Homo sapiens: one gene and its partners. The protein of the gene in region 2 purifies or fractionates together with the protein of the main gene of each other region. This does not show direct contact. Each region holds a gene or a part of one and is shown on either strand. Other genes may lie near its edges. The genes, in order: SUCLG1, SERPINC1 and OS9.

What was found.
Region 1: the proteins of SERPINC1 (region 2) and SUCLG1 purify together in Homo sapiens (affinity purification with mass spectrometry; 3 studies listed by BioGRID and IntAct, with this or other methods). This does not show direct contact.
Region 3: the proteins of SERPINC1 (region 2) and OS9 purify together in Homo sapiens (affinity purification with mass spectrometry; 3 studies listed by BioGRID and IntAct, with this or other methods). This does not show direct contact.

What each region holds. Positions count from the first base shown.
Region 1 is NC_000002.12:84,438,535-84,442,284, forward strand, and holds part of SUCLG1 (succinate--CoA ligase [ADP/GDP-forming] subunit alpha, mitochondrial precursor), read right to left. Parts: intron 2,926-3,750; coding exon 2,713-2,925; intron 2,571-2,712; coding exon 2,513-2,570; intron 1-2,512. UniProt on the Homo sapiens protein: Succinyl-CoA synthetase functions in the citric acid cycle (TCA), coupling the hydrolysis of succinyl-CoA to the synthesis of either ATP or GTP and thus represents the only step of substrate-level phosphorylation in the TCA.
Region 2 is NC_000001.11:173,915,409-173,919,158, forward strand, and holds the start of SERPINC1 (antithrombin-III isoform 1 precursor), read right to left. Parts: upstream 1,920-3,750; 5' UTR 1,852-1,919; coding exon 1,811-1,851; intron 1,533-1,810; exon of another isoform or gene 1,097-1,532; coding exon of another isoform or gene 999-1,096; intron 1-998. UniProt on the Homo sapiens protein: Most important serine protease inhibitor in plasma that regulates the blood coagulation cascade. AT-III inhibits thrombin, matriptase-3/TMPRSS7, as well as factors IXa, Xa and XIa. Its inhibitory activity is greatly enhanced in the presence of heparin.
Region 3 is NC_000012.12:57,697,068-57,700,817, reverse strand, and holds part of OS9 (protein OS-9 isoform 1 precursor), read right to left. Parts: intron 1-3,750. UniProt on the Homo sapiens protein: Lectin component of the HRD1 complex, which functions in endoplasmic reticulum (ER) quality control and ER-associated degradation (ERAD).

The DNA of each region.
Region 1 (3,750 bases), on a different chromosome or scaffold from region 2:
GGACTGAAAAGTCCTTCCTTTCCCTTAACTCTCAACCTAAGGATCTGAAGTCAAGGAGGCTATTGAGACTATTAGCAATGGTACCAAAATAGGAAGAGTTGGCACAAATAACCATCTTTCTCTCCTCACCCCCTCAAAAATCTTGTAGTGTTGAAAGTGAAGCCAGCTGGACTTCCTGGGTTGAGTGGGGACTTGGAGAAATTTTCTGTCTTACAAGAGGATTATAAAATGCACCAATCAGCACTCTGTAGCTAGGATTGTAAAACGCACCAATCAGCGCTCTGTAGCTAGCTAGAAGTTTGTAAAATGCACTAACCAGTGCTCTATAAAAACCCACCAATCAGCGCTCTGTAGCTAGAGGTTTGTAAAATGGACCAATCAGCAGGACACGGGCAGGGGACAAATAAGGGAATAAAAGCTGGCCACTCCAGTCAGCAGCTGCAACCCACTCAGGTCCTGTTCCATGCCATGGAAGGTTTGCTCTTTCACTCTTCACAATAAATCTTGCTGCTGCTCACTCTTCAGGTCCATGCCACCTTTAAGAGCTGTAACACTCACTGCGAAGGTCCGCGGCTTCATTGAAGTCAGCGAGACCAAGAACCCACTGGAAGGAACCAACTCTGGACACAGTGTCACATATTTTCTTCTTTTTTTTAAAAAAAAAAAAAAAGTCCTTTTTCAAAGGAATTAAAAGCAGTCTCCCAGACGACTGTCTCATCAATGGGTTATGACCATTCACAAAGGCAAGGTCTAAAGGACTTCCCTGAACTTCTCTTGATTTTCATTTTTTAGGTTTATGCTCACCTTAGAAAGCAGAGCAGTGATCAGAAAGGCAACTCAGCACAGAGCATTCCTTCCATGCTCACCTTAAGACCACAGCCTTCAAAACAGACCCAAGAATATAAGAAATATTCAAATATGTACAAGAGCATCAGTGATACATGGATCTGGCCCCACTGGAACTCAGATGGCCTATGGAGCTCCCTGAAATCTCTCTTGTAAATGAAATTATCAAGTACTGCCACTGGCAGCAGGGCTGACAGCTCCAAGAGACATTGGTAATAAAGAAAAATCATGATCTTTAACCCAATTCTGTAAACTGCACAGCCGACACCCACTGTGACAATTAATTACCCTTATTAGTAGCCATGGTTTATAGATAGAGAAAAATATGGTCAATCATCTTTCATGACTGAAAAACAGTATAGTTTAGAGAAATTTTGGTGTAAAGCCTAAACACAAGCCTAATGTGGCTAACTTTGAAATGTTACTTTGGCTATTTCCTCAAGGAACTAACCAAGTAGCAGGGCAATTTTCCTGACAGGCCATCTGAGTTCCCTTTCTGATCACTGCCCTGCTTTCTAAGGTGCCTACAAACCTAAAACATTTTGAGAAAGTTTGTGATATCTAAAAGAACAAGGTAATTATTGAGCAGGTATGTGAATGGCCTTATAAGCACATGAAAAGGTGCTCTACATTATTAGTCATCAGGGACACTCAAAACCACAAGAGATACCATTTTACTCTCAGTAGAATGGCTACATTTAAAAAGGCTAATAGCCGGGCATGGTAGCTCACGCCTGTAATCCCAGCACTTTGAGAGGCCGAGGCCAGCAGATCACCTGAGGTCGGGAGTTCGAGGCCAGCCTGACCAACATGGAGAAACCCGTCTCTACTAAAAATACAAAATTAGCTGGGCGTGGTGGCGCATGCCTGTAATCCCAGCTACTCGGGAGGCTAAGGCAGGAGAATCACTTGAACCTGGGAGGCGGAGGTGGGGGTAAGCCGAGATCGAGCCATTGCACTCCAGCCTGGGCGACAGAGCAAAACTCTGTCTCAAAAAAATGAAGACTAACAATACCAAATCTTTGTGAAGATATGGAGCAAGTGGAACTCTCCTACATTAATGGTGAAAATATAAAATGATATAGCCACTTTGCAGAACTATTTGGCAGTTTCTTATAAAGTTAAATATACTTGACTTATGTTCATATGAACATGACTTAGCAATTCCATTCCTACACATTTTGCCCAAGAGAAACGAAAATGTTTCCACAAAAAGACCTGTACACAAATGTTGACCTAAGCCTTGTTTGTAAGGCTCAAACATGAAAACAACCCAAATGTTCATTAATGGGAGAATGAATAAACAAACTGTGGTATAATTATACAACAGAATACTCCTTAGCAATAACTAAGTTATAACAGTTAATGAAATTAACTACTGATATATGCAAACACATGGAGTAATCCACAGAGTGCTGAGCAGAAAAAAATCTTTAAACTCCCACCACCAAAAAAATCTTCACTGATTCTGCAGAATTGTAACGGCTTCTCAAATAAACTCATTATATTCAAGATACAGAATTGATAGACTACAAAACTTCCCTGGTAAATTCTACTCAAGTCAAATTAATTAAACTTGATTTGCAAAGTCAAAAATTCTTTGTGAGTTTTGAGGGTTTAAGGCAAATAACGTTTTAATCTATAAGAATGTAACAAACAAACTCACCAATCCTTCCTTTTTTGTGAATATGGCCAGGCATGATGCCAATTTTACATTCTCCAGGCTGAAAGTAATCATAGTTTTCAGAAATGTTAAAAAAAAAAGTCACTCACAGGTCATACACACAAATACACTCGCATTCACTCAAAGCTGTTTAGCCTTGTGAGAGGCTTAATCTGAGTTTCTTTTTGTTTTTTTGCACTCACATTGATGACTCCAGGGCAGTTGGGCCCAATTAGCCTTGTCTTTTCCTGGCGCAGCAGTTTGTGCTTGACTCGTACCATGTCCTGCTGGGGAATTCCTTCAGTGATACACACAACCAAGGGAATTTCTGCCTCAATAGCTTCATTAATGGCAGCAGCAGCAAAAGGCGGAGGAACATAAATGACAGAAGCCGTTGCTCCTGTCTGTTCTTTGGCCTGAAACATTAACGACGAAGCACCTTATTATTTGTTAAATCATAAACATTGTAAAATAAATTCAATACCATCATTTTAATAATGTCTTGGGGTAAGAAAAGGACACTACCCAGAGACATAGCATTCTTCCCATTCTCAAATTTGCTACACTGTCAGAGTAGAACAGAATCAAGCATAGCCCTTTCTCAGCCCATTTGAATGCCACTGTGAATTGAAAGCTTCTGTGACATCTCACTCTCTATGGCATGTCAGTAAATCTGAAAGCAGCCTGACAGTGAACAGAGTCAAAGAATGCCAACATATCATCCACAAATGATGCCGGGGGTTAAAAATAATTTTTTAAAACTCTGTTCAAGATGATAACAGAGGGGGAGACACAAAAAACATTAAAACTAGTATGGAATCAAAAAAAGTCACATCATGGGGATGTAGGTACTTTAATGAAAAGTACCTACATTACATAGTTTTCTACCTCTAAAGTCTACAAATACTGCCAGAAGCTATACTGTGACAACAGCAAATATTGTGCTGGGACGTCATATGGATGAAAGGTACCAACCCTACTCATTCAAAAAGCCCTTTGTAAGAGCAGAACGGGTGAAAAATAAACAATATCTGTCAAAAAACTTATAGAATATTCCAAATGTCACAACTATTTGTGTCACTATAAATTATAAATGGATTGCTTAGCAAGAAGAACTTTCTTTAAAAAAAAAAAAAAAGCAAAAAGAGGCTCATGACAAAAGAAAAGTCAACCTAGAGGAATTGTAAAAAAACATCTCCTCTCTATATTTTGAGGTTATAAAATCAGCCATAATAGAATTT
Region 2 (3,750 bases):
CTCACGCCTGTAATCCCAGCACTTTGGGAGGCTGAGGCATGCAGATCACTTGAGGTTGGGTGTTCGAGATCAGCCTGGACAACATGGTGAAACCCTGTCTCTACTAAAAATACAAAAATTAGCTGGGTGTGGTGGCGCACACCTGTAGTCCCAAGCTACTAGGGAGGCTGAGGCAGAAGAATCACTTGAACCCAGGAGGCGAAGGTTGCAGTGAGCTGAGATTGTGCCACTGCACTCCAACCTGGGTGACAAAGTGAGACTGTGTCTCAAAACAGCAACAACAAACAAACAAACAAACAAAAACAATGGCAATATCTGTGTGCTGAAGATTCCTACATCTCTAGCTCCAGCCCTAACCCTTCCACTGAGCTCCAGACTGACTATTTGCTGGACAGTTCCACCAGGAACTCCTACAAGTTCTTCAGGGAAACAGGACCAAACTGAACTGGTAATTAATTCTCCCCCACAGGCCTGCTCCTGTGAGTGGGCTCAGTGAATCCCGTACAGAAACCTGAGAATCACCCTGGATTCCTCCCTCTCTCCTCCTCATTTAGTCAAACCCCAGAGTCAATCAGTTCACCCCAGAGTCAATCAGTTCTGTTTTTTTACTCTTTCACCAGTTATTGCCACTGCTTTAGTTCAGGCTCTCATCCCTTTTTATTGCCTGGAATTTTTAATAGTCGCCAACATGGATTCAATGAAGGTAAATGAAGCTAATTTCACATTTTAAAAAAATGAGGTAGTTGGGACACTCGATGAAGCAAATCAAGAGATAAAGTCTCTTGTAATATTTTTTGTAGATAAGACAGGGTGGGGCAGGGGCTGCCTCCAGCTGGTTTATGGTTCCTGCGTGTACACAAGGGGGTCTGTGTGTGGGTACTGGATCTTCCCATCTTCTCCTGGGAGAGAAAGACAGGCACCCAGTGCAGATTCACGGACGTGGTCCGTTGGGCAAGCCTGGGGCTGGCTGGAAGCTGGGGCAGCTGAGGGGGACTTGCCTTCTTGCGTGGTCTGAGTCCAGTTCTGCAGCCCTTTCAAGAACAGAGGTGCAAAGCCGGAGAGAAGCAGCGGCACCAAGGGAGATGTGGAAGGCAGGCTGAAGAAGCAGAGAGAGAGAGGAGAGGACCCTGCCATTCATCTTCCCATCTCCACTGCCTTCGGTTGCCCACTCTGTCCTTCAACTACATTTGGAAATGCAATTTGAGGCTGAGAGGACCCTGGGAGGGCTATGAAGCACAAATTAAAACCAAGACAGTTGTGCCACCACCCCGTTTCTAGCCTCCTGTGACAACTCAGATGAAGAAGGGAGTGTGTGTGGCATTGAGGGAGGGACAACTCTCATTGTGAGAAAAGGAAGCAGTTTTGGCCCTTTAGTCAAAGGTCACTGGGATTTGGGTGGGGGTGGAGTGGGGTGGATCTGAGTGGAAGAAAGAGCAAAAAGGGAGTGAGGAGGTCCTCATGGGTAGCATTTGCTCTCTTCCCGGATGGATGGCAGGCCCTGGGGATTCCCCTTGGAGCGTCCCCTGGATCCCGTGAGTGCTGACTTCCTGCACAGCATCTTTACACCAGGGATGACATCCCCCTTGTTTCTTAGGCTAGGGACCCAAGGGGTAGCTTAGGAAAGGCCTTACCCCAAGAGGTGGGGTGGGAGGGAGAGCACTTGAAATGACGTCTTCCAAACAGGTCTTTGACTGTAACTACCAGGGAGAGGGCCTGGTCTTCTCAAAGGTGTTGGAGGTCATTCCTGTGAGTCCTTTGGAGGTCACAAAACCCAGTAGGGGCAGGCAAGGGGAAAGCTCACCCCTCTTACCTTTTTCCAGAGGTTACAGTTCCTATCACATTGGAATACATGGCCGCTAATCTTCCACAGGGCTGGGCAAGTGGAGATAGTGTGATCTGAGGCAATCCGCCTGAAAACTGGTTCTTTCCTCTAAATCTCGCAGAGGTTCCAGAGGACAGGGTGGGGCAGAGAGCTGGTCAGGAGGGGGAACTGAGGTCAAAGGCTGATGACCAGTTCCCAGGGTTAAGCAAAGTGTAGAGCCCAGTGTTGTTTAATTAGTAGAGAAGTTTTAAAGTTCAATCAGGCCCAGGGAAAGCCTGAGCCACCTCTCTTGCCCACACTCCCTCACTCTTCTCCTCAGCTTTATAGAAAAGGAAAAGGAGAGTATGTTCATACCCTCAAACTTGGTTAGGAAACTAACCAAGGAAACAAACTTGGTTCATACCCACCCTCTCTCATAGTTTTCTTTATGGAGAGAGGGAGAGAGAGAGAGAAATATCTAATTAGAGAAGGCAAAGAGGGACAAGCTGCTACCTTCAGGCATCTGAGTGCCAAGGTGTCCCTGGCACAGACAAGGAAAACACAATGGTTACACCTGTGGCCCACAGAGAGACCCATTCCCCAGCAGCCCTGAAGTGGTGGGACAGGGAGAGAAGAGCAGGGCCTCGGGGTGCATGCCAAGCGCGTTTCTAAGGGGTGTGAGCAGCTGGGAAATACTTAGCAAAACTCTACTGGGGGATCAGGAGACAGAATGCGGGGCAGGTGAAAAACCCACGTACAACTGCTGAAATAAAAACAAACTAAATTATATTTATGTGTATCGTTATTTTTATTAGTTATTGGGGAGATTGGGTAAATTCAAACTAGTGGAGATAAAGGGCAGGTTTGTTTACATTTCCCTCTTCTGAAATAGCCAAAAGCACCATCACAAGGACTGCAGCCACCAAGTTCACAGGGCGCATGTGCCTCCTGCTGTGTGATCAAGGACTCCTTGTAGTTGTTGTTGCAGTCATAGGCATTTTCGAGAGCTCTTCGTTCATGAGAGAGGACATCTCTCCTGAACTGAAGCTGTGTCTAAGTTCTTGGCTGATTCAGACCCTGGATCCTTTGAAGCCCTCCATGTGCAGTGTGAACAGTAGCCGAGAACTGTCCCAAAGGGCCCCAGAATGCCCAGAGGCTCATCTGTCACCCTAGATTAAAGACTATTGAAAAGTCTCCTGTTCAACCACTTGAGTTCAACAAATACACGAGTGCTGCTTGTGCCAGCAGACACTGTTCTTGGGGCTGGGATTCCATTCGGGGGAGACATACAGCAATCACATAAAGAATCAGTATTTTAGGCCAAGCGTGGTGGCTCACACCTGTAATCCCAGCACTTTGGTAGGCTGAGGCAGGTGGATCACCTGAGGTCAGGAGTTCGAGACCGGCCTAGCCAACCTGGTGAAACCCCATCTCTACTAAAAATACAAAAAATAGCTGGGCATGGTGGTGGGCACCTGTAATTCCAGCTACTCAGGAGGCTGAGGCAGGAGAATCACTTGACCCCAGGAGGCAGAGGTTGCAGTGAGCCGAGATCGTGCTATTGCACTCCAGCCTGGGTGACAGAGCAAGACTCCATCTCAAAAAAAAAAAATCAGTATTTAAAAAATAAATATGTAACGTGCCAGTCAGATGTTAATAAGGTCCATAGAGAAAACTATAGCAGGGCAAGGATATAGGAAGCAGTGGGAGGAAGTGGGGAGGGCACCATCTGAGAACACTTGGTAGGAAAGGCCTCCCTTAGGAATCATTGTTAGGAAACCAGAATGAAATGATGGAGGGGGCCATATGAATATCTTTAGGAAGAGCTGTCCAAAGAGAAATCAGAAATACAAAGACCTTGAGGTTTCAGGAACATGCTGTTGAGACCTATTGTTCCAGCTTATAGGAGTTATGAGGTTTGTGTCTTGCCAAGAAGGTCCTTGGGGGAG
Region 3 (3,750 bases), on a different chromosome or scaffold from region 2:
CTCTCCCAGGGTTCTGCATCCCAGCCCTGTCCGCATTTTTTTCTCACTTTTTCTACTGTACCTTGATCTCCCTCTCCTCCTTTCCGCTAACATCCACCCAACAGCCTTCAACATGTTCTAGTCTGTTGCATCTTAAAACACACACCAATAAATAGGAATTTATTTAATTCCATATAGCTAACCAGTTGTTCCCTAGCCCCACAGAGACTGCACTTTAAACAACATGCACGCTGTTCCTATTGAGGAGGCATCAGGCCAGCAACACATCACAGTGCCTGCCCTGGAGTAGGGGCTTTACCTGATCACCTAGGCAAGTGGCATAAGAACTGAAAACTAGAAGCAACCAGACAGGAATGGCCTCAACTTTCTGCCACCAAAACCTCCAGACTCACTAGCAAATACACCATTCCAGTTACGACCCTAGACCTTCCTTTTGAGGCAAATTGCTCTCCCAGGGTTCTGCATCCCATCCCTGTCCACATTCTTTTCACATTCTCTCTACTGTACCTTGACTTCCCTCTCCTCCTCTCCACTAACATTCACCCAAGTCTTCAACATGTTCTAGTCTGTTCCATCTTAAAACACACACCAACCACAGAATGCCCCCTCTCTCAACCCCCCAGCACCTCTCACTAATGCTTACCTTTTATCTCCCTTTCATATCCAAACTTCTTCAAAGATTTCCAGTTTCTTTTTCTTTTTTTCTTTTCTTTTTTTTCTTTTTTGAGACAGTCTCACTCTGTCACCCAGGCTGGAGTGCAATGGTGCGATATCAGCTCACTGCGACCTCCGCCTCCCGGGTTCAAGCAATTCTCCTGCCTCAGCCTCCCGAGTAGCTGGGATTACAGGCGCCCACCACCACACCCGGCTAATTTTGTATTTTTAGTAGACATGGGGTTTCACCATATTGGCCAGGCTGTTCTTGAACTCCTGACCTCAAGTGATTTGCCTGCCTTGGCCTCCCAAAGTGCTGGGATTATAGGCATGAGCCACCGCGCCCAGCAGAGTTCCACTTTTTCACCACTTTTCTCAACACCTCATCTTCACAACTCTGCTCAAATTGCCCCAGCAAAGATCACCAATGATCTCTATCATTAAGTCCAACCAAAGGACTGGTCAGGGGTGCCTGGAAGTAGAGAATTTATACTTTCCATCTGGCTCTCTTCTCTACTGTCTGAATTTTTTATTTCCATGTACATGTTTTGCCTTTATTAAAATAATAATGACTATGATTGCCTATAAGCAGTTTTTAATCCTCCTCTTCCTTGAAGGTTCAGGCACAGCCAACACCATGGACCAATTTCCCCTTCAAATGTGTCCTTCCTCGTTTCCATGTCACCATAGCCTCCTCTCTGGCCCTTTCTTCTGGCAAAACCCTCTTCTTCCCATGCTCTTAGTGATGGCTTCCTTGAAGTTCCATCCCACTTTTCTCATTAGATACTGTTTTCTTTGGGGGATTTCATCCATACCTTGGCTTCAGTTATGGCTGATACAAGGACAACTCCCCACCTCTGGGTTCAATTCAGATCTCTCTGCTGAACTCCAGACCCAGAGATCCACAGCCCCCTTGGAAATCTCTACTTGAATGCCTAGCAGCCACTAAAATCATATTCAAAGCCAAACTCACCATTTTCCTTCACCATACCTACTCCTCTTCTCATTATACCTATCTCAGGAACACGAATCACCCTCTATCTAACTGCACAAGCCAAAAGCCTGGAAATCATTCTTGACTCCTTCTTACTCTGTTGATTTTACCCCCTAAATCTGTCTCTAAATATTCACATTTCTTCATCCCCAGGCCACTTTTATTTCACACCTGGATTACCACAGCTGCCTAAGTGAGCTCTCAATCTTTGCTATACTCCAGCTAGAGTGGGCCTTCAATTCCAAACCTGAATATGTCATCATTCTGCTTCAAATACCTCATTGCCTCCCCTAACCATTGTCTCTTGGATTGTCTAAATTCCTCATCATAGCTACAGAGCCCTTCATGACCTGTCCCCTACCAACCACCCAGACTCATCTCCTACACTCCTCTTCCCATGATTATCCCCTCAGTCCCTGTGAGTATCTGTCAGTTCCTGGGATAGGCCATTGCCTCTTGTCTCCAGGCCTTTTGCACTTAGCGCACCTTCCATTTGGAATGCCCTCTCATTCCCCCCACCATCCTCTCCATCTGCTAGTCTAACTCCTCATCCTCCAATGTCAGTTCAAAGGTCACTTTTCCCAAGAGGCCTCCTTTTCACCCTGGACTCTGTCCCGACTGTGTGCTCCCCTGCGGGCTGCACTTCACTGCTCATGGCATTTATCCTGCTTGTTGTGGCTGTTCATTTAACATATCTCCTGAGAGCAGGACTAGGTCTCATCCACCTTTTTGTTCCTAGTTTCTATTAGTGCTTGGCACAGGGCATATGTTCACCAGATATGAGGAAGCTATGCAGTCTTGACCTCAGTTCTTGGCCTACTGAAGATACAAACACCCAAACGAATAACTAGAATACAATGAAGTGCTATAACGGATTATATACGTGTGTGGATGCTTGTATTATTAAGTGGTGAAGGAACACAACTAACTAATTTTCTGGGTTAATCAAGAAAGGTGATATTAGAACTGGCTTGTCAGTCATTTCATTCATTCAATGAATAATTTCTAGGTACCTATTTGAGTGAAGCACTGTTCCAGGAGCTGTGGATACATAAGAAAACAAGATAGACATCATCCCTGCCTTCCCAGAGCTTATCTTAGTGAGGGAAGACAGAATTAAACAAATACAATAATTTCAAGTAATGATACATGCTTTGAAGAATGCAAAACACTGTGGATGCTTACCAGGACAGGAGCAATAGGGTGTGTGTGTGTGTGTGTGTGTGTGTGTGTGTGTGTGTGTGTATGTGTGTGTGTGTGTTTGCTTATGTTAGGTTCCGTGTGTGTGTGTGTGTGTGTGTGTGTGTTTGCTTATGTTAGGTTCCCTGGGAGTTGTCACTTGAATATAACCTGAATGAGGGGATGGGGCCAATCATTTAAAGATCTGCAGGAGACTGCACCAGGCAGAGGGAACAATGAGACCCACTGGTTCGAAGGACAGAAAAAGGCCAGTGTGGCAGAAATACAATGAGTACTTATATCTCTATCCCAGACCTTGTCCCTGAATTCCAGAACCACAGAGCCAACTGTCAACTGGACATCACCACTAGGATGTCTAAAGGCACCTCAACCTTCAATATCCAAAACCAACCTAATTTCCTCCCCTAAACCTGTTCCTTCACACTTCAGTAAATTACAATTCCATCATTCCAGTTGCTCAAGCCAAAAATCTTGAAGTAATCCATGATTCTATCCCACATCCAAACCATCAACAAATCTCATTGGCTCTACCTTCAAAATATATCCAGAATCCAACTACTTCCCATCACCTCCACTGCCACCACCCTGGTCTGTGCTGAAACATTTGGCTCTTAGCCTTTGTGCAAGGCAGAAACATTGAAGGTTTTTCAGGACTGAACAGAGAAGTGATGCAGACTTACAGGTGTGTTGGAGCCAACTGGTAAGTTTTGGAGAATGTTGCAAGACAGTTGACATCATTTGACTTGCGCATCATGGGAGTATTTATACCACAGGCATTGGCAAACATTACAGATCAGGGCTTCCCTCCCACACCCATAGAGATCTGGGGGTCCAACACTTACCAGCACACAACTGCAGGTACAAATCTGCATTATGGAAAGATAACTCTGGCAGGTGTCATG